5 separate regions of the Homo sapiens genome follow, and regions 1, 2, 3 and 5 are each linked to region 4. The links come from fine-mapping of genetic effects on gene expression. A gene starts in region 4. Each other region holds a variant in brackets. All regions are shown on one strand. Distances are between the middles of the regions. Region 1 overlaps ABCC5 (ATP binding cassette subfamily C member 5). Region 2 overlaps ABCC5 (ATP binding cassette subfamily C member 5). Region 3 has its middle 31 kb from the start of MIR4448. Region 4 holds the start of ABCC5 (ATP binding cassette subfamily C member 5). Region 5 overlaps ABCC5 (ATP binding cassette subfamily C member 5).

Evidence for each region.
Region 1: its variant is fine-mapped to the expression of ABCC5 in whole blood (TOPMed, PIP above 0.99).
Region 2: its variant is fine-mapped to the expression of ABCC5 in whole blood (TOPMed, PIP above 0.99).
Region 3: its variant is fine-mapped to the expression of ABCC5 in whole blood (TOPMed, PIP 0.92).
Region 5: its variant is fine-mapped to the expression of ABCC5 in whole blood (TOPMed, PIP above 0.99).

What each region holds. Positions count from the first base shown.
Region 1 is chr3:183,949,991-183,955,093 of GRCh38, reverse strand. It overlaps ABCC5 (ATP binding cassette subfamily C member 5), which reads left to right. Exons shown (of 30, transcript NM_005688.4): 18 at 1,824-2,008; 19 at 3,091-3,237; 20 at 3,524-3,653; 21 at 4,969-5,103. Among named protein-coding and RNA genes, the nearest start is that of ABCC5-AS1, 54 kb to the left of the region's middle. The variant G/T (reference allele first, on the strand shown) is at 2,210.
Region 2 is chr3:183,974,712-183,979,814 of GRCh38, reverse strand. It overlaps ABCC5 (ATP binding cassette subfamily C member 5), which reads left to right. Exons shown (of 30, transcript NM_005688.4): 9 at 1,164-1,312; 10 at 2,191-2,298. Among named protein-coding and RNA genes, the nearest start is that of ABCC5-AS1, 29 kb to the left of the region's middle. The variant C/T (reference allele first, on the strand shown) is at 1,999.
Region 3 is chr3:183,914,779-183,919,881 of GRCh38, reverse strand. No RefSeq gene overlaps it. Among named protein-coding and RNA genes, the nearest start is that of MIR4448, 31 kb to the right of the region's middle. The variant T/C (reference allele first, on the strand shown) is at 3,078.
Region 4 is chr3:184,015,639-184,020,741 of GRCh38, reverse strand. ABCC5 (ATP binding cassette subfamily C member 5) reads left to right here and starts at 2,858. Exons shown (of 30, transcript NM_005688.4): 1 at 2,858-2,912. RefSeq lists an enhancer at 2,461-2,640 and a silencer at 3,121-3,290.
Region 5 is chr3:183,926,597-183,931,699 of GRCh38, reverse strand. ABCC5 (ATP binding cassette subfamily C member 5) reads left to right here. Exons shown (of 30, transcript NM_005688.4): 27 at 2,875-2,953; 28 at 4,257-4,370. Among named protein-coding and RNA genes, the nearest start is that of MIR4448, 42 kb to the right of the region's middle. The variant A/G (reference allele first, on the strand shown) is at 2,407.

The sequences.
Region 1 (5,103 bases), 66 kb after region 4:
CTGGGAGGCTTCATCTACATGACAAGAACCTTGGCGTCCACACCCTGTCCCCCACCACTCCCCCACCACTCAAGCTAATTTCAACTCTTCAGGCAGAGCTTAACCCTTTCAACCAATTGCCAATCAGAAAATCTTTGAATTCACCTTTGACCTTTAAGCTGCACCTCCCTGCCCCATGTTGCCCCACCTTTCCGGATCAAACCAGTGATTACCCCACTTATATTGATTGATGTCTCATGTCTCCCTAAAACATAAAACCAAGCTGTAATCCAACTGCCTTGGGCCTGTTCTCAGGACCTCCTGAGGCTGCGTCACTGGTCATGATTCTTAACCGTGGCAAAATTAACTCCTAAATTGATTGAGACCCGTCTCAAGGTACTTTCTGGTTTACATTCTGTATTCTCATATTAGTGTTAAGAATCTGAGTGCGCCAGGGAGATCCTCAGGAATATATTTGAACCTTTTCTCTCCTCCAGCAGCCAGCCAGTTACTATGTCCTACTGAATTTACCTCCCGAAACTCCATCCCACCATCACAACCCCAGTTCAGGCCTTTATCATCTCTTACCTACAGTGTTACAGCTGCCTCGTTTTGAACCTGTCTTCCACACGGTCAGCTGCGAGATCTAGTTAAAAACATGAGACCAGCTAGGTGCGGTGGCTCATGCCTGTAATCCCAGCACTTTGGGAGGCTGAGGCAGGCAGATCACCTGAGGTCAGGAGTTCGAGACCAGCCTGGCCAACATGGTGAAACCTCGTCTCTACTAAAAATACAAAAATTAGCCAGGCGTGGTGGCGGGCGCCTATAATCCCAGCTACTTGGGAGGCTAAGGCAGGAGAATTGCTTGAACCCGGGAAGGCGGAGGTTGCAGTGAGCTGAGATCACGCCACTGCACTCCAGCCTGGGCGACAGAGTGAGACTCTATCTCAAAAAAAAACACACACACAAAACATGAGACCAACCAACTTTCCTGCATGGAGTCTTTCAGTAACCTTCCATTTTCAAATATTTTCCCTGATAGGGCACATACAGAAAAGGCTATTTGTGTGGAACACAGGAGGCATGAAAGAGGCTGCTCGCTCCCAGAGGCAGCTGGTGTGGCAATATCAGCCATCCCAGGTCCTTCCTAGCCCAACAGAAGTCAGACACACCTGTCACCCTTTCTGTTGAGAAGTTCTTTGTGGGGCCAAAATTCAAAGCCTTTCTTCTGTGACCACAGCCTGCTTAGTCGGCCTCATCTCCTGCCATTCTTTAAGTGCACATCTGTTCCAGCTGTGCCGAATCACTGTGGTGGTGTGTTTTGCTACCCCGTGCCTGTGCTTGTGTTGTTTTCTCTGCCTGCTCTCTCCTTTCCCCACCCGGTCATCTGTGGCTTACCTTTTGAGAAGCAATACAGAAAGTCTTACCTGAAACATGCCTGCCAACCACCCCACACCTAAGCCAAATAGGTCAAGTATGCCTCCCAGGGGTTCCCATGCTGCCCTGCGTATAGCTCTATCATCACATTGAGCACATTTCACTGTAATTATGTGATTATTGATCTGCCTGTCCTACCAGTCTGTGGCAGGCTCCTCAGCCAGGTCCCTAGGGGTGGGGACCTGGTCTTCATCCTCTTTGCTGCTCCTGGGCTTCATCCTGGGTCTGGTTTGTGGTAGGTGCTCAGTAAATGTTAAATAGATGAATGAATGCTTCTGACAAAGAGGAAATCTAATCTAGACCCCTGTGAAGCTGCCGGTTGTCCGATTCTGTTGCTCTGCAGGTGACTTAGTTTTATGGAAATAGTTCTTCCCTTCTGAGTCCATGTTTCTTTTTTTCTTACCTAGGGCAGCTTGTGCAGCTGGAAGAGAAAGGGCAGGGTTCAGTGCCCTGGTCAGTATATGGTGTCTACATCCAGGCTGCTGGGGGCCCCTTGGCATTCCTGGTTATTATGGCCCTTTTCATGCTGAATGTAGGCAGCACCGCCTTCAGCACCTGGTGGTTGAGTTACTGGATCAAGCAAGGAAGCGGGGTAAGGTTACTCATAAATGGGAAAGTTCTGTGTCTAAGAATGTGGCCGTTTCTCCCTATTCCCTGGCTATTCTTAGGGAAACTGTTCTAGTTTTCACTTAAAAGAAGCTGTAAAGAGAGATTTTTCCAGGATGAAAAGATGAGTCCCTAATGTAGCCTCACCAGAAGGAAAAAAACGCTGACCAACCCACAGGGCAGTAGG[G/T]CGTGCAGTAGGACACCTGCAGGCTATCTGTTCTCATCCGTTGTGTATTAGTCCATTTTTGCACTGCTACAGAGAAATACCCAAGACGGGGTACTTGACAAAGGAAAGAGGGTTAATTGACTCACAGTTCCACATAACTGGGGAGGCCCCAGGAAACTTACAATCATGGTGGAAGGCAAAGGAGAAGGAGGCACCTTCTTCACAAGGTGGCAGAAGAGAGACAAGACAGCGTGTGCGGGAGGACATGTCAAACACTTTTAAACTGTCAGATCTCATGAGAACTCACTGTCACGACAAGAATAGCATGGGGGAATCCACCCCACAATCCGGTCACCTCCCACCGGGTCCCTTCCTCAACACCTGGGAATTACAATTCAAGATGAGCTTTGGGTGGGGACACAAAGCCAAACCATATGACATTAGAATAGAGAGAAAGAGGGCTAGGTGTGGTGGATCATGCCTGTAATCCCAGCACTTTGAGAGGCCAAGGCAGGTGGATCACTTGGGGCTAGGAGTTCAAGACCAGCATGGCCAACATGGCAAAACCCTGTCTGTACTAAAAATACAAAAATTAGCTGGGCATGGTGGTGCACACCTGTAATCCCACGTACTTGGGAGGCTGAGGCATGAGAATTTCTTGAACTCAGGAGGCAGAGGGTGCAGTGAGCCATGATTGCGCCACTGCACTCCAGCCTGGGTGACAGAGTGAGACACTGTCTCAAAAAAAAAAAAAAAAAAAAGAGGTGGACAAAGCCATGACCAGGTCCCAGGGTGGGTCATTATCCTGTACCCTGCCCTGCCCTTGAGCTGAGAATGGCGCTGAGCAGGGGCTCTTGGCAGTCGTTAGGAGTCTGGCCTCATAGAACTTTGGCTTCAAACAGAACACCACTGTGACTCGAGGGAACGAGACCTCGGTGAGTGACAGCATGAAGGACAATCCTCATATGCAGTACTATGCCAGCATCTACGCCCTCTCCATGGCAGTCATGCTGATCCTGAAAGCCATTCGAGGAGTTGTCTTTGTCAAGGTATGCATTGGTGGGTGGTCTCTGCCCTCCTCCCTGGTGACCTGTGGTCAGGCTTTGGTGTGGCGTCTCTCAGTTCATGCTGAGTAGGGGAGCTCCCTTAACCAGGATGGCCCTGGCTGAGATGACTCATATTCCGTTAGCCTCCACCTTTTCTCACTTGCCACCTGTCCCTCCTGACCCCTCACACCTCCCCGCTTTGGGAGTGGATGTGCTGCGGAGCGGTTCTCTGGACCAGTAGGAACAGAGCCGTCCCTGGGCCCTGACCACTCTGTGCTCTGCTCCTCAGGGCACGCTGCGAGCTTCCTCCCGGCTGCATGACGAGCTTTTCCGAAGGATCCTTCGAAGCCCTATGAAGTTTTTTGACACGACCCCCACAGGGAGGATTCTCAACAGGTTTTCCAAAGACATGGATGAAGGTATTTCTCACTGAGCCTTTTTTTAATACTCTGGAGCTCACTGTGCTTCCAGCCTTCTAGATGATTCTCCAAATGTGCAGATCTGTCTGTCTGTAGATCCTGAGAGCACAGTGACTGCTGGTGTTTTCACCAGGAACATTGCAACTGCATTTTCTGTCTTGTTTGACCTGAAAATAAATTCAATGAATTGAGTTAGCAGAAAGGCTTTGAACAGAGGCATCTGAGATTCTGAAACACACACAGATTTTAAAGCAATGCATTGGTTTCTGGATGCCTACAACCTGGCAGGTTTTCTGGCTGTTGTATGGGCTGTGCCTGCACCAGAACTGAAATACTGTACCCCCACAGTTCAGAGTAACAGTAAAGCCCCTGACATTGACAGGGGGCTTCCTGTGTAGCAAGCAGCATGCTCAGTGTTTTATGCATGTTACCTTAATCCCCGCAGCAGGCCTGTCAGGCGGGTGTTGTTTCACTCCTTGAATAATGAGAAAGCTGCTATCTGGAAAGGTCAAGGAACTGGCCCAAGATCTACAGCTATTGAGTGACAAAGCTGCAAATTGAACCCAGATCTTTTTGACCCCAAAGCTAATGTTTTTAATTGCTGCACTGTAGCTGCCTTCATGGAAGGGGTTTGTTTCAGGCATTGATAGGCCATTGTAAACCCATGGCCAGAGGTAACAAGAAATCAGAACTATCCCTGATACTCGAACTGATACATAACATGTTCCCATTTCTGCTAAACACACACGCATGTGCTCACACATGAATGGAAAAAAGAAAAAAAGTAAATAATAGCAACATGTCTGGGATTTGCATGAAAATACTTTAACCAGAAGAAAAAAGGCGGTGGGGTGGGGAGACAGCCAAAAAGAGATGAAAGTTGATAACTGTTGAAGGGTCTGTGCTCTTCCTTTAATTTTTATGTATGTTTAAAAATTTTGCAAGACAAAAAATGTCTTAAATGTTAACAGCAGTTCATTGGTATTGGTAAGAATATAGTTTTTGTTTTCTTCTTCACATATTTATTTTCCAAACATTTTAAAATAAGCATAAGTTACTTTGTAAAGGGGGAAAATGTTTAAAGCAGTGGGGCAGGAAGGGAACCAAGAAAAGGGAGTGGAGTAAGAGGATTTTCTTGAGACGAAAAAAAAAAATCAGAGCATCCAGGTTTCTAAATTTTTCTTTGATCAGACTGTTTAAAGACAACATCACAAACTTCAGATAGAGAGTTTGTGGAACCCCTTTTTGTTTTTTTCAATTTTCAGTTCCATTTTTCCAAACCATCTGACACTTGCTCCTTTATTTGTTTCCACAGTTGACGTGCGGCTGCCGTTCCAGGCCGAGATGTTCATCCAGAACGTTATCCTGGTGTTCTTCTGTGTGGGAATGATCGCAGGAGTCTTCCCGTGGTTCCTTGTGGCAGTGGGGCCCCTTGTCATCCTCTTTTCAG
Region 2 (5,103 bases), 41 kb after region 4:
TAGAGCCCAGGAGTTCAAGACCAGCCTGGACAACGTACTGAGACCTCCTCTCTACAAAAAATAAAACATAACTGGGCATGGTAGTGCACATCTGTGGTCCCAGCTACTTGGGAGGCTAAGATGGGAGGATCACTTGAGCCATGGAGGTTGAGGCTGCGGTGAGCCGTGATTGTGCCACTGCACTCCAGCCTGAGCAACAGAGCGAGACCTCGTCTGAAAAAAAAGTATCTTATTGTTCTGCTTCCTGCTCCACGGTCTTCAGTACACTATGGTTGCTTTGCTAATATGGGGGTTGATTTTGCAAATATTTAAGAAAAATCATTCTGCCTATAGAAATTGTATTTCACCTATCTTCTTCCGGTTGTCATTACTGCATTTTTATATGGAAGCTTCTATCCCACTGCCAACATACAGCAGGCACTCTGGGAAATGTTAGTTCCCTCCCCACTGCCCCTTTTTTTTTTTTTTTTGAGATAAGGCCTGGCTTTGTCACCCAGTCTGGAATACAGCGGTGCAATCTCGGTGCACTGCAACTTCCACCTCCCAGGTTCAGGCAATTCTCCGGCCTCAGCCTCCCAAGTAGCTGGGATCATAGGCGTGTACTACCACACCCGGCTAATTTTTGTATTTTTAGCAGGGACGGGGTTTTGCCGTGTTGGCCAGGCTGGTCTCGAACACCTGACCTCAGGTGATTCCCCCTGCTTTGGGCCTCCCAAAGTACTGGGATTATAGGCATGAGCCACCGCACCTGGCCTCTTAGTCCCTCCCTTTTTAATTCTCCAGTGCCATTGTGTTGTCTTTCCTATTAATTCCTTAGGCAAAAAGTCAACAACAACCAGGTAAGCAAACACAACTGCCAATTATAGATACAATTAATGTGTTCATTCCTTCTCAACCTAAGAAATTTACAAGAAGAATCAGAAAAAGGTATCATAGAAGATGATGATTGAGTTCATACATAGTGACTGCTTTCTGTTAGATTCATTCCTGTCACTTGATCCATTTCAAACCTCAGCCTTTTATACCAGCTTTAGTGGTAGAGTTGATAGTCATAGGTGTTGAAGGGTGGCTGGAGACCTACAGAGTCTTGTTTGGAGGTGGAGGAACAACATCCCTAGGCTTCTTTTAACTTGCTTTGAAATTGGCTTGCTTTTTATTCATAGAAATCCGCGAGGAGGAGCGTCGGATATTGGAAAAAGCTGGGTACTTCCAGAGCATCACTGTGGGTGTGGCTCCCATTGTGGTGGTGATTGCCAGCGTGGTGACCTTCTCTGTTCATATGACCCTGGGCTTCGATCTGACAGCAGCACAGGTCAGGGAACCCTCAGGGATGGGGAACATTTTAGAAATACCACATTTGCTGGAGGCTGAGGCAGGAAAATCACTTGAACCCAGGTGGTGGAGGTTACAGTGAGCCAAGATCATGCCATTGCACTCCAGCCTGGGGGACAGAGCAAGACTCCATCTCAAAACAAAACAAACAAACAAACAAAAAAAAAATACCACATATGGAGATGATGCTGTGGTCCTCTCCTTACTGGACCTGGAGGTTCCCCCAAGAATTAGTAGGTATTTTTTCATTCATGGGATTAAGCTGAGAAGCAGAAGAGTGGGGAGCCAGCCCTTATGCACAAATAGTGTATGAGTTGTTTTTAGTCAACATAAGTTTGAGTTTAATTCTGAAATTACAGATCATCCTGTGGTTCATATTTACTGACAATTTTAATTGAAGGTCTCAAAAACTCTACTTAAAAAAAAATGTGGCCAGGCATGGTGGCTCACGCCTGTAATCCCAGCACTTTGGGAGGCCGAGGCGGGCGGATCACTTGAGGTCAGAAGTTTGAGACCAGCCTGGCCAACATGGTGAAACCCTGTCTCTACTAAAAATACAAAAATTAGCTGGGCATAGTGGTGCATGCCTGTAATCCCAGCTACTCGGGAGGCTGAGGCAGGAGAATTGCTTGAACCTGGGAGGTGGAAGTTGCAGTGAGCCAAGAT[C/T]GTGTCACTGCACTCCAGCCTGGGCGACAGAGCGAGACTCCGTCTCAAAAAAAAAAAAATGTAATTGACTTGTAATAACAGCTGACCGTGAAGTTGCAGCCTTCCTAGCGCCTGAGAGGAAATTCATGGTGTCAGGTTACTTCAGTTGCATAGCATCATTAGGCACAGTTTCTTCTCTTCTCCTATTTTCAGGCTTTCACAGTGGTGACAGTCTTCAATTCCATGACTTTTGCTTTGAAAGTAACACCGTTTTCAGTAAAGTCCCTCTCAGAAGCCTCAGTGGCTGTTGACAGATTTAAGGTAAGTGGCTCCTTCCCCTGCCCCCGTGTCAGGAGCCCTCCCCACACAACTAACTGCTGGCTCTGTTCAAGGGGCCACCCAGGCTGGCCTCACTGGGCTTAAGCTTGGCTTTGGCCTTTTGGCAAGTTGGTAAGAAAAAGGGGGCAGTGGAGGAGACTGAATTGAGGGATGAGACTTGTCACCTTTTTTAATTAATGTGAATTTTTACCTTTTGTGAACGGCCATGATCTGGGCTCCCAGGATTGCAGAGTTCCCCTTTAGAGCTAGCCCCTTCCACCTGGGCCTGACATGGATGTGTCGCAACTCACTGGGCCTTGAAGTGGCTTAAACCTAGAAGACCAGCACTGTGGGGCATCTTCCCCTTGATCTTTGCTACTGTCACTTTGATTGATTGACATGCTGAATCCTTTTTGATACTTTCTTTTTCCTGCCCTGTGGTGCTACTCACGATGCAGGGAAAGCAGTTACATGGAAATAGTCATAAAACTAGGTCATGTTGAGAAGTGCAGTTAAGTAAGTCTCAGCTTCTTTTCTTGCAGGTGGTTAGTTGATCATACCTTGGCTGTGTTCTTTGTTCCTTCAGAATACTACACATACATGATACAAAAGGGAGTATATTTGGGAGGGTGGAGAGAAATAGATATTTGATAGTGGTTAATACTTAACAAAAAAAGGGATGCCATGTGGGCTGGAATTCCTTGATGTTGCCACTGCATAGATTAGCTCCTATGTCCCTGCTTGTCTTTATTGGCCAGTGAGAGGAATAAGAAAGCAATTTTGGTGATGTGAAGGCTTGAAGCTCACATGTTTGAGGGATGAATATAATCATCTTGGAGGTTCAGGAGAAAACAAATTGGATTTTCTTCTTAAGAAACATGGAAACTCAGTTCCCGAGATTTGTTTGTATTCTACTTGTTTACAGTTGACCGGGTGACTTTTATTTGGTCAAGAAAGCTAGTCCTGGCTGGGTGTGGTGGCTCACACCTGTAATCCCAGCTCTTTGGGAGGCTGAGGCAGGTGGCTCACTTGAGCCCAGGAGTTCAAGACCAGCCTGGGCAACACAGCAAGACCCCGTCTCTACAAAAAAATAAAAAAATAGCCAGGTGCAGTGGTGTGCGCCCACAGTCCTAGCTACCCGGGGGGCTGAGGTGGGAAGATTGCTTGAGCCCAGGAGGTCGAGCCTGCAGTGAGTTATGATCATGGCACTGCACTCCAGCCTGGGCAACAGAATGAGACTCTTATCTGTGTTTTTGTTTTTTTTTGTTGTTGTTTGTTTGTTTCTTACAAAAAGAGAAGAAAGAAAAAGGAAGGGAGGGAGGGAAGAGAGAGAAGGAAGGAAGGAGAGAAGAGAGAAAGGAAGAAAGCTAGTCTTCGAATGTGCCCCTCCCCCACCCCAACGTGGCCACTTCTTAGAAAACCAAGAGCTGAGTCATATGAAAAAAAATGGCCTAATGGGACTCAGAGCTTTATTTTGCTGAATCCGCAATAACCAGTCGTGGATGAAAGCAAATGTTTGACCATAAGTTCTCCCTGCTGTTCATTTCTATATTCTTGTTAGTGAATGGATTTGGTAGCACTTTGGATAAAGTAAGGGCATGTAGTGTAGGTTGGTCCTCCCCTTGTTTTTCGAGGGCTCTCATCTCCTGCTTATTAGTGAGGACTTGGATTAGCAGGTGGCTTTCACATCATAGGTCCCTCCTCTCTCCAGGAAGCCTCAGAATTAATAGTAGAAGCAGCACCACCCACAGCTCTATTTGATGCCCCATGAGACTTTAGACCCCTTCTATCTTACTTCTCTTGGTGGTCTCAGTCTCTTTTTTTCCTTGTTATTCTTTTTTTAATTAGATGCTTGGCACAAGATAACAAGTATTTATGGCCAGCCTTGGTGGCTCACGCCTGTAATCCCAACACTTTGGGAGGCTGAGGTGGTTGGATCACTTGAGGTCAGGAGTTCAAGACCAGCCTGGCCAACATGGTAAAACCCTGTCTCTACTAAAAATCCAAAAAATTAGCCAGGTGTGGTGGTGTGTGCCTGTAGTCCCAGCTACTCGGGAGGCTGAGGCAGGAGAATCGCTTGAACCTGGGAGGTAGGGGTTGCCATGAGTCGAGATCGCGCCACTGCACTCCAGCCTGGGCAACACAGCGAGACTCTGTCTCAGAAAAAAAAAGATAACGAGTGTTTATTACTTAATTCCTCCCGAACTCTAAGCCGGTTCTTTCTTCTTATCTTCAGATGTCTATTAATTAGAATTACATTGACTTTATGAGGGTTGGGGGGCTGTTTTTTAGGTGTAAGGCAACTGTTTATTATGTTTCTGAGTACGTTAAAGGAAGTTTGCCTCAATCTTGGGGGACCATCTAAGGCAGCCTTTTGAAAACAACAGAACTGTTCCTGGGATTGTATCTCCCCAAAAGCATCTGCCCTCTCATCATTTTTAGAAGATGGAATATAGAATAACAAGGATGAGACTTGCTTCTTTGATTCATTTTACAGACCTTGAAACTCACTGACGATGTTGCAGAGCCCTGCTTTTCACCCTGTGTCTTGTTTTACATCATTTTCTTTCTTTCTTTTTTAAATTGGAGTTGGAGATCTGACAGATTTGCAAGTATAGTCTTTTCTCTATTTCACCTACCCTGCAAGTGCATATGGCAGGAGAACTTGTTGCTTCCTGTTGGGTAGTATGCATAAAGAATAGGAAAAGAGATATAAAATTTATTTATGTAACCTGTAATTTATTGATTTGATAACCTGTAGAAAGGCAGTGTGAAGCTGCACTGATTGTCACCAGTGGAATAGGGTGG
Region 3 (5,103 bases), 100 kb after region 4:
GCTTTGGGACCTGCATATCCAGCAATGGAGTTGCATCTGGGAAGGACTGGTAGCAAAGCTGGTTGGTTGCAAGGGCCATGGGGCCCTGAACACCTGGAATCATCTCTGTGGGCCTTAGTCCCGCTGCCTGTGTTCCTGGACATGGTCCCCAAATAAAGCTCCTTGGCTGCCCATAAGAGGGTGGGGAGTGGAAAGGTGAGTGGTTGTGGTGAGGTGGGTGGTCGTGGTGAGATGTATTTAAAATGAATAGTTTATCGAGGATTCTTAGCAATTCAAACAATATAATTACCCTTTCAGCCAATTCATTCAGATTCACCCATTGAAAATTAGTAACCCCGTCTCTACTAAAAATACAAAAATTAGCCTGGTGTGGTGGCAGGCACCTGTAGTCCCAGCTACTCAGGAGGCTGAGGCAGGAGAATCACTTGAACTCGGAGGTGGAGGTTGCGGTGAGCTGAGATCGTGCCATTGCACACCAGCCTGGGCGACAGAGTGAGACTCCGTCTCAAAAAAAAAAAAAAAAAAAAAGCAAAGGGTACTCATTCTAAAGTTTCTGACTATATTGTGTTGAATGCAGCCAAGAAAGCTTTTAAACTGGTATTAGTTTGCTGGCCATCAGTAGAAATTATACTAATTTTTCTAAAGTACCTGTGCTGTCGTGAGAACCCAGGAGCTTGACTCTAAAGTTAAAACTTTAGTTCCTAGAGTGTCACATTTCAAGCGCTCAGTAGCTGTATGCGACCTGTACAACATAGTAATGTACAGTGCAGATATAGGACGTGTCGATCATTGCAGGAAGTTCTGTTGGGCAGCTCCAATCTAAACGGTAACCACTTTTACTGAGGCACTAGATTTATCTTCCAAGAAGGTAACAAGGTCAGCAGAACGAGACCCTTCAAACTGCTGGGATTACAGGCATGAGTCACTGTGCCCAGCCTAAATTGGATTTTTAAAAGCAATTTCCATTTTGCCATTTTGTGCTTTCCCAGCTCATAATTCTCTGTTGCCAAGTAGAGTAGGCTAACAGGTGTAAGAAACAAGCCCAGACTTTCAGCAGTTTACCACAGTAACCAAACTCCTGTAGCAAAGCAGTGTGGTCTGTGGAGGGGTGGAATGAAGGTTCTGCCCGTGCGTTCAGGAACCCAGTCTCCCTCCCTCCTGGTCACCCTGCAAACCTCTAGATTTGAGCTTCTCTGCTGGATCCACTGTGCTGATCAGAGAAGAGAGCACAGAATGTTGAGCAGAAAGTGTTATGAAACAGGCCTGAAAACATTAGACATCGCTTCTGTGCTCGTTTTCTTGGCTAGAACTCAGGGGCACCTGTAAGCTAAGCACTGTACTAGGTACTTCTAGCATGGCCTTACGTGATTTTCTCAACCACTTTACAAGGTAGCTAAAATTAAGCACATTTTGCTGATGAGGAAAGGCTCGTGAAGATTTAACTTGTCTCAAGCCAATATCCAGTATGAAGTGAATCACACAGAATTCAAACCCAAACAGCCTGCTCCCAGAGTTCAAGCTGTTCCTCATCTCATGACCTGAGCTTCAATTTCATCAGCAAATTCAATTTCATCAAATGCATGTGCTAGATCAGATTGCCTCTAAGATTTCTTCCAGCTCTAACTCCATGACTAGTGTGAGTCCATAACTAGGACCTGAAAAACCTGGATCCTGCTCACCTCATTTGGGACATGGCTCTAGAACTCTGCCTCTTCCTCTTTGCTTCCACTAGGGAGGTGGTGTGTACTGGGAGCAGATTTCCTCTTTTCCTGGAATCTTTTCTGTGTCCTGTTTCTTTCTGCCTGTGGCCTGAATTCAGCATTCTTCCTTGGCTCAGGCAAACTCCCTTCTACCTGCTCAGGTGGACTCAGCTTAGGAGGACTAAGCTGGCTGCTGTCCAAGTGAGAACCATCAGAGCTAGTACTTGGTCTCCCGCAGACCTGGCACAGCCCTGTTCTCAAAGGGGAGCTCCATACCCAGCTAGGACAGGCCAGCACCAGGCAGTTAGGACCGTGGGCACACACCTGTTGGGGCAGAGATACTGACGTTGCCTGGAATGGTTGGTTCACGGGGCTAGGGGCTGGGGGAGACTTCTCTGACTCATTTTTTGTGTCCTTGACAAAGAATCTGGTGGGCTGCAGTCCTGGGGCCATTCTGACCACTGGTGAGAAAAAAGGTGCCGTGAGGCCCACTCTGGGAGTCTCCATCTGATGTCATTCCCATGGGCCTCTGAGAGTGGCCTGCCCTCCGGGAACTTTAGCTCCCCACTTCTTCCAGACTTACTGATCCAACTGCCTCTTCCCTCAGCCTCCCAATACCTGGACTCCAGCCCCCTCGGGCTCTTTTCCCAAAAACTATTTATTGAACAGTCACTAGGTCCCATACCTTCTGCTGGGCACAGGAGACCAGAAACAAGACACAGGGAGATTATAGTCCAAAGGAGAAGAGAAACTTTAAGTAACTTGCTCACTTTTTCTCACCCTTTCTCCTCCTCTGAGTTTCTCGGTCATGACCTAGGAGTCCAGGGATGGCACCTGGCCAGTCCTGCCCTGGGTTATTCAGAGACACCCTTTCTCTCTTGTCCTTGGTATTCCCTATCTCCGATCTCCCTTCCTTTCCTAGGATGTGGTAAGATCTAAAGGTCCATTGTAATAAGGATGTGGGCCTGGGGCTGCTAGTTTCTGGGCCCTGGGCAACTCCTCCAGCCACAGGAGTCTTCAGGCACCAGACTCTCCGGACTAGCCCACCACGCTGCCTCTCAGTGCCAAAGGCGTGAAGTCGTCAACAGAAAGGTTTTGCTAGAGCAGCCTCTGTGTATATTTTCTCTGGGATCCTGACAGCTGATCAAAATACAGGGGCTGGATCCCAGCCACCTACCATTTGATATAATCGCTGGCATTCATACTTAGATAATAAGCAAAACAATGTTTGGCTAAGAGAAGTGACACCTTGGGAACATACATGCCATCCCGCCATGCCTACGTATGATCAGGTTCTACCCTTCAATCCCCAGCCGAGCCGTGTTGTACTTGGAGAAAGACTACCACTCCTTCAGTTTCAATACCCTTGGCGAGTCC[T/C]GGAGTCACTCTCGGAAATGGGCACATGAAGAAACCTGCTACTTCATCTTCCATAAAATCTCTGTTGGCAGGCCAGGCGTGGTGGCTCACACCTGTAACCCAGCACTTTGGGAAGCCAAGGTGGGCAGATCATGAGGTCAGGAGTTCGAGACCAGCCTGGCCAACATGGTGAAACCCTGTCTCTACTGAAAATACAAAATACAAAAATTAGCCAGGCGTGGGGGCAGGCACCTGTAATCCCAGCTACTTGGGAGGCTGAGGCAGGAGAACCACTTGAAACCGGAAAATAGAGGTTGCAGTGAGTTGATTGTGCCACTGCACTCCAGCCTGGGCAACAAGAGTGAAACTCTGTCTCAAAAAAAAAAAAAAAAAAAAAAAAAAAAATCTCTGTTGGCAGTTGTGTCCACACAAGAAATCCCTTTCAGAATCTGATCTCGGGAAAATTCTCTGCTTCTCAGTGAGGATTCTGGAACACATTGTTTCCTCCTTCTTATTTTAGCCGACAGGAAGCTCAGGGCCCTGTATGTTTATCTCAGCTTGTTTCCCTCATCCTTCATAATATTTTGATCTTTCCTTTTGACCGTCTTGAATATTATTTATTTATTCATTTATTGAAATGGAGTCTCGCTCTGTCTCCCAGGCTGGAGTGCAGTGGCACGATTTTAGCTCACTGCAACCTCCACCTCCCGAGTTCAAGCAATTCTGCCTCAGCCTCCCATGTAGCTGGGATTACAGGCCCGTGCCACCACGCCTGGCTAATTTCTTTATTTTCAGTAGAGATGGGATTTTGCCATGTCGGCCAGGCTGGTCTCGAACTCCTGACCTCAGGTGATCCACCTGCCTCGGCCTCCCAAAGTGCTGGGATTACAGGCATGAGTCACTGTGCCCAGCCTTGAATATTTTTAATATTTTAAATAATAGCTGCCATGAATCATTCTCGGATAAGATGAATATCCTGGGAACAATAAAGACATCATTCTGGTTGGATGGCTAATTCTACTGCCCTTGATGGGGTGCGATTGTGGGTGTGTGTGTTGGGGGCAGGGAGGGGGAGGATGTTGGCTGCCCTTTGCCACACTCTTCGGACACGAAGCCTCTCCCTGTGCCCTGAGATCATCCTGGCTGGAGCACAGCATGGCAGTGGCGAGTCCCACTGCCCCGCTCCCCTTACTCAAAGCTGGGCTTGAAGGAAAGCAGCTCCCCGTGGGAACTCCACTGGAACACTCTGCAAAATTCTAGATGCTGAGTTCATTGCAAGCTGTCAGGCAGCACGTCATCCTTTCTTCATCTACGAAACCTGGGGATGTGCAGAACCACTGGTCATAGAGTCACACCAAGAGTGAAAGAAGGAACTATTGATAATAAAATATGCAAAGCAGGGCTATGTCCTCTAGCGCTGGCCCGTGCCCTGGCTTGCCTGGATGTGGTCCCTGAGTCTGCCCCTCCTTCAGTTAGAGGATCCTGGGTCTCCCAGCCCTCCCCAGAAATAGCTCCTGTCCTTTGGGGCCTTCACATAATGTCTAGAGGCAGGCAAGCCCCCTGTATTTGTTCCCATTCACTCCCATGGGCACTGGGACACATTGGACAAGTTAAACACAACCGCAAGGAATGGAATTCTCCTTCTGTGTTCAGGTGCATGGAGGTAACTGGAGGGGGGTCTCTTCTGCCTAGTTCTCATTCCTTCCACCTCTAGTGGTCTCTGTAGCTCCTTATTTTTATCTCCTCCCTTTCCTAGTCAGGGAGAAGTAGGGGGTGGGCCTACCTTGCTGGAGTGGGGGTGTGGGGCGGAGCAACTTCCAGGCACTGAGTGTGGAGTGGGTACTGGGTTTGGGTCGCTCTAGAAGGGGAAAGGGGTGTTCTTTTGTTCTGAGATCTATCCACAGGAGGGGGTGTTGCGGGATCTACAGTGAGGGTCAGTCTGCTATGGGAAACGGCCCCTGCCTGGGCACAGGCCCATGGCTAAAGCTGTTGATCCAGCATTCCTTAACCACTGTTTCTCCAAGGGCCATGGAAGGGGCTCTCCCCT
Region 4 (5,103 bases):
TTTAGTACATTACACAACATAAATATTATTTAGAAATACCCACAATTCTGGCCGGGCGCGGTAGCTCACTCCTGTAATCCCAGCACTTTGGGAGGCTGAGGTGGGCCGATCACTTGAGCTCAGGAGTTCGAGACCAGCCTGGACAATATGGTGAAACCCCGTCTTTACTAAAAATACAAAAATTAGCCAGGTGTGGTGGGACATGCCTGTGATCCCAGCTGCTCTGGAGGCTAAGGCAGGAGAATCAGAATCACTTGAACCCTGGAGGTGGAGGTTACAGTGAGCCGAGATCTAAAAAAAAGAAAAGAAAGAAAAGAAAAGACACACAATTCTACACTGCAACATAGATTCTCTAGCCCCCTTGCCTGAGGGTTGGGAAGTATCGCCCCTCTAAACAGTTCACAACACAAACACATTTTGAGGGGGTAATTTTGTAAGTATAATTCTTTCACTCAGACTATACTTGGACAGACCAAGACAGTACTACAGTGTATTGAAGCCTGCCACCAAGGCTGTCTGGTGTTCATCTATTCTTTTTTAATAAAAAACAAACTATAATCAACATATATGAAGTATTTCAGCGGGATTTAGAAGCTTTTTAAAAAATATGATGATATCAGATCTGCAGTTTTGGGTGTTACAGTGTTTGAGGCATTGTTGGAAGGTACTAGAATCTTTGGTGAGGTGGTATCTCATTACTATTTTAATTTACATTTCCAGGCCAGGCGTGTTGGCTCACGCCTGTAATCCCAGCACTTTGGGGGGCCTAGGTGGATGGATCACAAGGTCAGGAGCTCAAGACCAGCCTGGCCAATATGGTGAAACCCCATCTCTACGAAAAATACAAAAATCAGCTGGGTGCGGTGGCCGGTGTCTGTAGTCCCAGCTACTCCAGAGGCTGAGGCAGGAGAATTACTTGAACTCTGGAGGTGGAGGTTGCAGTGAGCTGAGGTGGCACCACTGCACTCCAACCTGAGGGACAGAGAAAGACTCTGTCTCAAAAAAAAAAAAAAAAAAATCAATTTCCCTGATTATGAATGAGATTGGGTGTCTTTTCATATTTGAGTGGCTGCTCAAGTTTCCTATTCTGTGAGCTGTCTGTTCATGTCATTTACCTATTTTCCTATTGGGTTATCTGCCGTTTCTTACTGAACTTAGAAATTATTTTGAATATTTATTATTCAAAAACTTTGTCAGTTATAACTTGTGGTTTATCTTTTCAATTTATGCCATCTTTTAATATGGCAAAAATTATCAATCTTTCTTCCTTTATTCTTTGTTTCTTGTTTAAAAAGTTCTTTCCTACTCCCAAGTTCATAAAGATATTTCCTATCTTCTTCTAAAAGTTTTTAAGTTTTCCCTTTCACATTTAAGCGTTTGATCTACCTGAAATGGGTTTTTTCTGTGTGGTATGAAGCGGTAATCCCTGATTGTTTTTTCATATGTATAACCAATTGTTCCAGTACTATTTACTGACTCTTCTTGCTTTCCCCACGGATTCGTAAGGTTTTCTGTCACAGATCAAGTTACATGGATGCACCAGTCTGTTTGGGGGCTCTTTATTCTATTGCATTGGTCTATCAATCCGTGCGCAAGAATATGCTGCTTTACGATACAGTAGTGTCTTCACACTAGCTAACTAGCTAGCTGTTATAAAGATGGACAAGTCACTTTACCTTCTCCTTCTTCCTCTTCCTCTTCTTCTTCTTCTTTTTTAATCTTTGAATTAAAAAAAAATACGGCGGGGTGAGGTGGCTCGCGCCTGTAATCCCAGCACTTTGGGAAGCCGAGGCGGGCGGATTACCTGAGGTCGGGAGTTCGAGACCAGCCTGGCCAATATGGCGAAACCCTGTCTCTACTTAAAAAATACGAAAATTAGCCGGGCGTGGTGGCGGACGCCTGTAATCCCAGCTACTCGGGAGGCTGAGGCAAGGAGAACTGCTTGAACCCGGAAGGCGGACGCTGCAGTGAGCCGAGATCGCGCCATTGCACTCCAGCCTGGGCAACAGAGCCAGACTCCTTAAAAAAAAAAAAAAACTCATAATACCTACTCATAGGGCTGTAATGGAGATTAAAGGAAACAAGAATGGTATGTAAAGCATCGGATACAAGGTAGGGAAGAACTCAACAGTGGCTTTTATTTAATGATGCTGAAGGTACCGATGAAACAGAGAAATAAAGGGATCAATCTTTCTGGGAGCTTCAGTTTCATTTATAAAAAGAAGAAGATGAGTTAGCATAACATTTCTAAGGCTCTTGCCACTTCTAAGACTGTGATCCTGGCATTTTATTATCTAGAGACCAGGCAGCGAGACATTGATGGGCAGTTGGTGTTAAAGTGAGAAAGGCGGTATCTGCGCAGACTGCAGGGTCGAACCATGAGCAAGCAATCGTATCTGCCACAACAGATAAGAACTGGGGCTGGCCGGCCTGACGACTCTCAACGGGTTAGACGCGGGCTACGATGACCTTCACGATCTTTTCTGGCAGCTACACGGCCACGCAGGGTGGGACTGCTCTGCCTACGAACAGCACTGTGTGCGAACACAGGGCCACGGTTAAGCCTCCCGGCTGCCTCCCCCAGGGAACACGACCCCTGAGAAGATTCCAGACAGTCTCGCAGAGGCACGGGGAAGGATGGAACAGAGCCGGGAGCTCGGTGGGAAGAGGGGCAGCCCGCACCGCCCCCGGGATGTCACCGGCGCTTCTGGGAAATGTAGTCCTTCGCCGCGTCCGCAGCCCTGGGCACTCGGAAGGAGGACTACAGTTCCCTTCAGCCTTGGGAATGCTTTGTGCAGCGCGCTTGCGCGGTGTGGCGGCCGATGCCGCTATAAAGGCTTGTTTTGCTGCAGGGCTCATGCTCGGGAGCGTGGTTGAGCGGCTGGCGCGGTTGTCCTGGAGCAGGGGCGCAGGTAGGTGATGGCTGCTGCCGCACCCCTGCCCTCCAGCTCGGTTGTCACGGGGATCACCCCTTTGCATTTCCTCGGGGCGTGGCGGGATGTGGCCAGGGCTGCGAGCAGTTCGGGGGACACTGGAGACTTGGGGAACGGCGTATGGCCTCCCCCTGGTCTCCTGCCGCCGCCTCCTAGGCCTGTGAGCCCGGGGTCTGGTGACGGGGTCGTGTGCTGGAAGACAGGCAGGTAGGATCGGGATGAGCGGGCAGGGACGCGGGCTACGTCCCTGGCCGCGGCCGCCAGGGGGCGCTGCGCCCGCGGGCCGTGGGTGTGGGTCGCGCTCGCCTGGGCAGGCCGGAGCGGGCTGTGGGAACGCCCTAGGGCCCGGGCATCCCAGGCGAAGCGGGTCTGAGAGAAACGCCCACCTGGGAGGCTGTGCAGCGGGTGGCTCGGGGCACCCTGCTCAACCCGCAGCGGAGCCGCCAGCGACCTTCGAAGTAAGTCATCCCCTTCGTTTTTGCAAGCGGGTAAATGGAGGTACGTGACATAAGCACGCGCAGCAAAGCCGTGGCTGTGCCGGGAACGCAGCCCAGATCTCTCCACGGTCATCCAGTGCTCTTTTCGCTTCTGCCACACAGAGCCGCGGGTGGCTTTGTGTTTATCACACAGGGGCCATTTGGTTTCTGCACAGACGGAGAGGCTGGAGGCAGGTGGGCACAGGAACGACGGGGAAAGTTTCAGGAGGTCTTGGAGGAGGAGATGGCTAGGTTTTACTGTGGTCCGCAGCGTGTATGAAAGGTGAGGCTGCTTGGAGACGCAACAAGTGGATTACAGTGGGTGTGGTAAATACGTATCCCTTTAGCGTGGTGTCTTCCTCGTGCAGCTTGAGGGCCTGGAGGTGATGGAAACCTACTCATGAGTGTTGGGATGACTGCAGCTTGCACACACCAGTCTGGTAATCCCGTGCAACTCTCCTCCTGCCATGCAGTTGAATCAGTATCATTGTGCAGGGAGAGTGTCTACACTTTTATCAGTGGAAAGAGAATCTTGGTAAAAAAGGGCAGCTGACTAAGTGGCCTCAACCCTATTGGGCACTTCTTTGGGGTTCTCCCACGTTGATTATTCTGCTTCTACCCTTGTACATGTCTGGACAACAGGTTTGTTTTTTACAAACAAAAATCCCTTCTCTTTCTTCCTCTCTTGATAGCTGAGGCAAGTGAGCATTTAAAAAAGATATTCCAACAACTTTAAAGGAGGACACGAGAAGATAGGGAAATATAAATAGTATCAGTAAAATGGCTGGCCTGGGGATCCATCCTTGCTTGCTTGCTTGCTTCAGACTGGGGCTTTGTTTCTTTCCAAACCTGTCAGGATTCCCAGCTCTTCGCCGGCCTCCACGTGGGGTGCCCTCTTTTATGTTCCAGATACACAGACGATGGTGTCCTTATGTTCAAGGCCACAGACAGTAACTTTGTGCCTACTTTGGGCCTGCCTGCTCTCCTGATTGTGCCTCTTTTTCCAGGAAAGTAGAGATGAGTGTGTTAGAGATAATGGAACACTGTTCCCCACACCCTTCATACATAGAATAACTTAGTCCCTTAGGATAGTTTAGCAGTGTCTACCACAGCAGTCACTGTAGGCACAAAACAGTCATTATTTGTGTCATAACAGGGAAGTCGTTTTGTCCCTGCCTCTCTCTGCTCCTGTGCTCCACTGATTCTACTTCATCCTTTGAAATAAAAGTGGTTGAAAGAATCTTTGGTTATCATGGGTGCTTAGATAATTAAGATTATGTTCGTGTTCTTCTTGATGTGGCATTTCATATTGTGGATGAGTTCCAGTGACCTCCTCTGTTTCAAACTGCTCACCGCCCCAACCCCCACCTTTTAAAAAGGTAGTACTAATCTTTTCCTCTTCCAGATAATCAGCTAAGCTAGGGAACCCTTGAAGGGGAAGGTTAGAATTTCGTGATTCCCGTAAGAAGGTTACTCTGATCTACAGCTACAGCTCAACACTGGGGACACTGGCAGATGCCAGGTCTGTTTATAGTTTAGCCTTAATGAGGTCTCAATGACGTGATTGCTGCACTCTGGCTTGGTGAGCCGCTGTTCTTTATGGTGTAGTTTGTCATTGGACAAGGTGACTTTTTTTTTTTTTTTAAAGATAAGTAACAGCTATATCAACTTAGGGTACTTGAACCAGAATTCTG
Region 5 (5,103 bases), 89 kb after region 4:
TTGTTTAGTGGTCTGAGGCTCCTTCAGCTGGTGTGATGGACCTGGGTGAATTGAATGTTAAGCCTGGGCTGGGCACAGTGGCTCACGCCTGTAATCCCAACACTTTGGGAAGCCAAGGCGGATGGATCACCTGAGACCTGGAGTTCAAGACCAGCCTGGCCAACATGGCAAAACCCTATCTCTACCAAAAAATACAAAAGTTAGCCAGGTGTGGTGGCGCACACCTGTAGTCCCAGCTACTTGGGAGGCTGAGGCATGAGAATTGCTTGAACCTGGCGGGGCAGGGCAGGGGTTGCAGTGAGCTGAGATCATGCCACTGCACTCCAGCCTGGGTGACAGAGCAAGATTCTGTCTCAAAAAAAAAAAAAAAAAAAAGTTAAGCCTGTTGTCGTATTTGCCCATAGAAAATCTGATAGGGCCGGCTACTCAGTGGGCAGGAGACCGCGCTTTTGTGTACAGCAGTTCTCGCTTCTCCATGGTTTCACTTTCTGCAGTTTCAGTTACCCATGATCAACCAGGGTCCAAAAATATTACATACTATATTTTGCAAGAGACAGACCACAGTCAAATAATGTTCATTACAGCATATTGTTATAATTGCTTGATTTCATTATTGTTAATCTCTTACTGTGCCTAATTTATAAATTAAACTTTATCATAGGTATGTATATATAGGGGAAAAAAACATAGCATTTATACGGTTCAGTACTATTTGTGGTTTGAGGCATCCACCGGGGCTCCCTGGAGCATATCCTTGTGGATGAAAGGGGGCTCCATGCCTGCTCTTTGATCCAGAGGCATCTGATGGACTTACTTGCTGTATGTGTTTCCTGGGGCTGTCATAAACAGTTTAAGCCACAAACTGGATGGCTTCAAACAACAGAAATGTACTATCTCACAGTTCCGGGGGCTGGAAGTCTAAAATCAAAGTGTCATTTGGGCCATGCTGCCACTGAACCCTATAGGGAAGGACGCTTCCTTGCCTCTTCCAGCTTCTGGTAGTTGTGGCCATCTTTGGCATTCCTTGGCTTTGGATGCATCCCTCTGGCCTCTGCCTCCATTGTCACATGATGCCCTCCCAGTGTTTCTCTGCCTTCACGTGGCCATCTCTCATAAGGACCAGTCATATGGGATTAAGGGCCCACCCTTCTCTATTACTCTGGTATGACCTCATCTTAACTAATTACATCTGCAAATTACCCTATTTCCAAATAAGGTCACATTCTTAGGTACTTAGGTGTCTTTTGGGGAGACACAGGTCAACCCATTAAACTGTACCATATTAAACAACACTTCCTGGGCCAAGGGTAGTGAGAAGCGAGCATGTTCCAAGCGGGAAAAACGCCGTGCAAAGGGCAAGAGGCGCTGGAGAGCAAGGCGGGTCAGAATCTCCCAGGAGATCGAGAGATGCCCAGATAGCAGGAATGAGGCGGTGCCGGCCTGCTGTCCTCTCACTAGAGTTCTGTGATAATGACGTGATTGTATTTGCATGCCTGTAATTAGTAACCCCAGATATGGAGACAGGTGTGTGGCATAGAGTAAAAGTCCATGTTTCTCCCAGAGAGTTTCCTGTTTCCCACATGCCAGGCATAATTTTATGAGCAAAGCAAATATACTTTTCAGATTACTAGACCTCCAAATGTTATGTGTAGATCAAGACAAGCCGTCCAAAATTACTGTAACATCCCAGTTTTCCACCAAATACCTGTTCCACCACCAATTCTCCACCCTCATCCTCAGTGGCAAAGATAATTTTCTCCTGTCCTAAACATTTCTAGTCCTGGCCGGGCACAGTGGCTCATGCCTGTAATCCCAGCATTTTGGGAGGCCCAGGTAGGCTCATCACTTGAGCTTGAGCACTGGAATTTGAGACCAGCCTGGGCAACATGGCAAAACCCCATCTCTACAAAAAACACAAAAATTACGTGGCATGCGCCTGTAAAAAAAAAAATTTCTAGTCTCGTTCTTTTGGTATCAACTCTGATTTCCTTGAGGTAGATACTGTTGGCACAGTAAGCAAAAATGGTCCCCAAACTGGTCTTCTGTGCCAGGAAAATTCCTTTTTCTTGACTTGTCCTTTATTCTTTCTCTCCTTCTTCCTCTTCCCTTCTACTGGATCAGTTTCTTTCCCTGGTCAGGCCAGCTGTCCTGGAGCCCCATACTCAATTACAGGGTTGTGAACCAGGTAAACCAAGAGAAAGAGGGTGCATTTCTAAGTTTGTACGTATGGAGAGATTTATTTTTTATTTTATTTTATTTTATTTATTGAGATGGAGTCTCACTCTGTCGCCCAGGCTAGAGTGCAGTGGTGTGATCTCAGCTCACTGCAACCACTGCCTCCTGGGTTCAAGCAATTCTCCTGCCTCAGCTTTCTGAGTAGCTGGGATTACAGGTGCCCACCACCAC[A/G]CCTGGCTAATTTTTGTATTTTTAGTAGAGACAGGGATTCACCATGTTGGCCAGGCTGGTCCTGAACTCCTGACCTCAAGTAATCCACCCGCCTCGGCCTCCCAAAGTGCTGGGATTACAAACATGAGCCATTGCACCCAGCCGAAAGATGTATTTTAACAAATACACGCACAGGAAAAAATCTAGAAGGATATTTGCCGATATTTGCATTTATAAATTGTTCTATAACTAGTATTATTTACATAGTAAAAATAGTAAAAGAATAAATCAAGTTTTATGGAGCTGAGGAGGTGGCCCAGTGTGCTGTCAGAGCTCCCATCTGTCTGGTTGTGGAATGAGCCGTCTGTGACCATCAGGGTTTGGAGTCTTCTCTCCCTATGCATGTGTGTTAAACATCTTCCACAGACAGCCTTTGCCAATGGGTCGCTTAGGGTGGGACCACTGAGAAATTCCTGTGTTTCTCCCTAGATCAAATTTGGACCCCTTCAACCAGTACACTGAAGACCAGATTTGGGATGCCCTGGAGAGGACACACATGAAAGAATGTGTAAGTGAAGAGCTTAGGGGAAGCCGTGCTGAGATGGTGAGGGTGGAAGCACAGCAGTGCCCTTGCCACACCCCGTCTGCTCTGGCCGTGCCTCCAGGATGCCTGTGGACAAAGGCTTCGTGGCAGGGCTCTCCAAGTCTTTCAGATACCTGGGAAAAGCTGATCCCTCTCAACCCCACCGCCCACACTGCCTACGGTCATATTGGCCTTGCACTATCCATTGATTGAAGATAGTAATGACAACTACTTAGAATTAAGTGATGCTTTTAATTTATTAGTCATAACAGTGTAACATACTTTGAAGCGTCCACATATACGCAAAAGATATATAACGTGGCCGGGCGCAGTGGCTCTCGCCTGTAATCCCAGCACTTTGGGAGGCCGAGGCAGGTGGATCACCTGAGGTCAGGAGTTCGAGACCAGCCTGACCAATATGATGAAACCCTGTCCCTACTAAAAATACAAAAATTAGCCGGGTGTGGTGGCATGCACCTGTAATCCCAGCTACTCAGGAGGCTGAGACAGGAGAATCGCTTGAGCCCAGGAGACAGAGGTTGCAGTGAGCGAGAGCGCACCACTGCACTCCAGCCTGGGCAACAAGAGCAAAACTCTGTCTCAAAAAAAAAAAAAAAAAGATACATAACATATTGAGTCTGCAGAAAGCACACAGTGTGCATATGGACCATGGACCACAGACATTTTGGGACAACTCAGTAGGCCCTCACAGGCCCTCACGAGCAGCTGCAGTCTACAGGTTGATACCACTGGCCTAGGGTGAGGCTTCTGTTATGCCTGGGTTGAGTCAGGATCCAGGATCCCCTGCCCTAATTCAACTATTAGTAGATGAGTTCTGTTTTTTCCTCTGCTCTATCGGGATTCTTCTCATTTGAAGAATAAGTTCTGCAGCTTACAAAAAATGTTTCACAGGCACGGGCCTACGGCTTTGGACTTCAGAAGGAGAGTACTTTTCCTTACTATACTATTTCCTATTGCAAGACCATATTTTCAGAACCAAAACTTAAGGCCCACTATGTGACTGGATTTTGGGGACATGAAAGCGTTGGGATTTCTGGGATGTTTTAATGGTATAAAGCTAACAGAATAGTCTATTGGAATCAGGGACTGCCTTGGAAGTGGGTCCTAGCACGCATGATCAGTACACCTGCACCTTCATTCCAGATGAGACAGGTTCTTGGCTAATAGTTCTTTCATCGCTTTCAGAATCATTTCTTTCTGTCCTTGGATTTTCAGGAAATTCAGCTTAGTTTCTTACCCCTCTGATCTCTAGTTTCTTTCTCCCTAGATTGCTCAGCTACCTCTGAAACTTGAATCTGAAGTGATGGAGAATGGGGATAACTTCTCAGTGGGGGAACGGCAGCTCTTGTGCATAGCTAGAGCCCTGCTCCGCCACTGTAAGGTAAGGCAGTTTGGGGTTGGCAGCAGCAGAGAATGGGAATGTTTTAGTGCAGCCTTGCCCTGACACACTGGGGTCCAAAGGTATTCCTGGCTCTGATCCCTGTTGGCACTTTCTAAGAGCATGACCAGAGATAACTCTAACCCTGACACAATTTGGGTATATTGGTTCTGGGGAGGGAGAACAGGGTTGCTTTGTTTTTACCTTCATCCAAGACCAACTTTTGTTTCTGGCCATTGAGTAGTTGTACGACTGCAAACCATAGACATAGAAGATTTTTTTTTTTTTTGAGACGGAGTCTTGCTCTGTCTCCAGGCTGGAGTGTAGTGGCCAAATCTCGGCTCACTGCAACCTCCACCTCCCAGGTTCAAGTGATTCTCCTGCCTCAGCCTCCCGAGTAGCTGGGATTACAGGCGTGCGCCACCATGCCCAGCTAATTTTTGCATTTTTAGTAGAGATGGGGTTTCACCATGTTGGCCAGGATAGTCTCGATCTCTTGACCTCGTGATCTGCCCGCTTTGGCCTCCCAAAGTGCTGGGATTACAGGCGTGAGCCACCGTGTCTGGCCGACATAGATTTTAAAATTGCAAGAGACTTTAAGGTCATCCAATCCAGCCCCTTCATTTTATAAACAGGAAAAGAATGTCCTTTTGTCCAGTATGTTACCAGCCATATTGGATTCAAGGGAAAAAAAGAATTAATTGTACATGCTCACTGTCACAGAGCATGTAGGGGC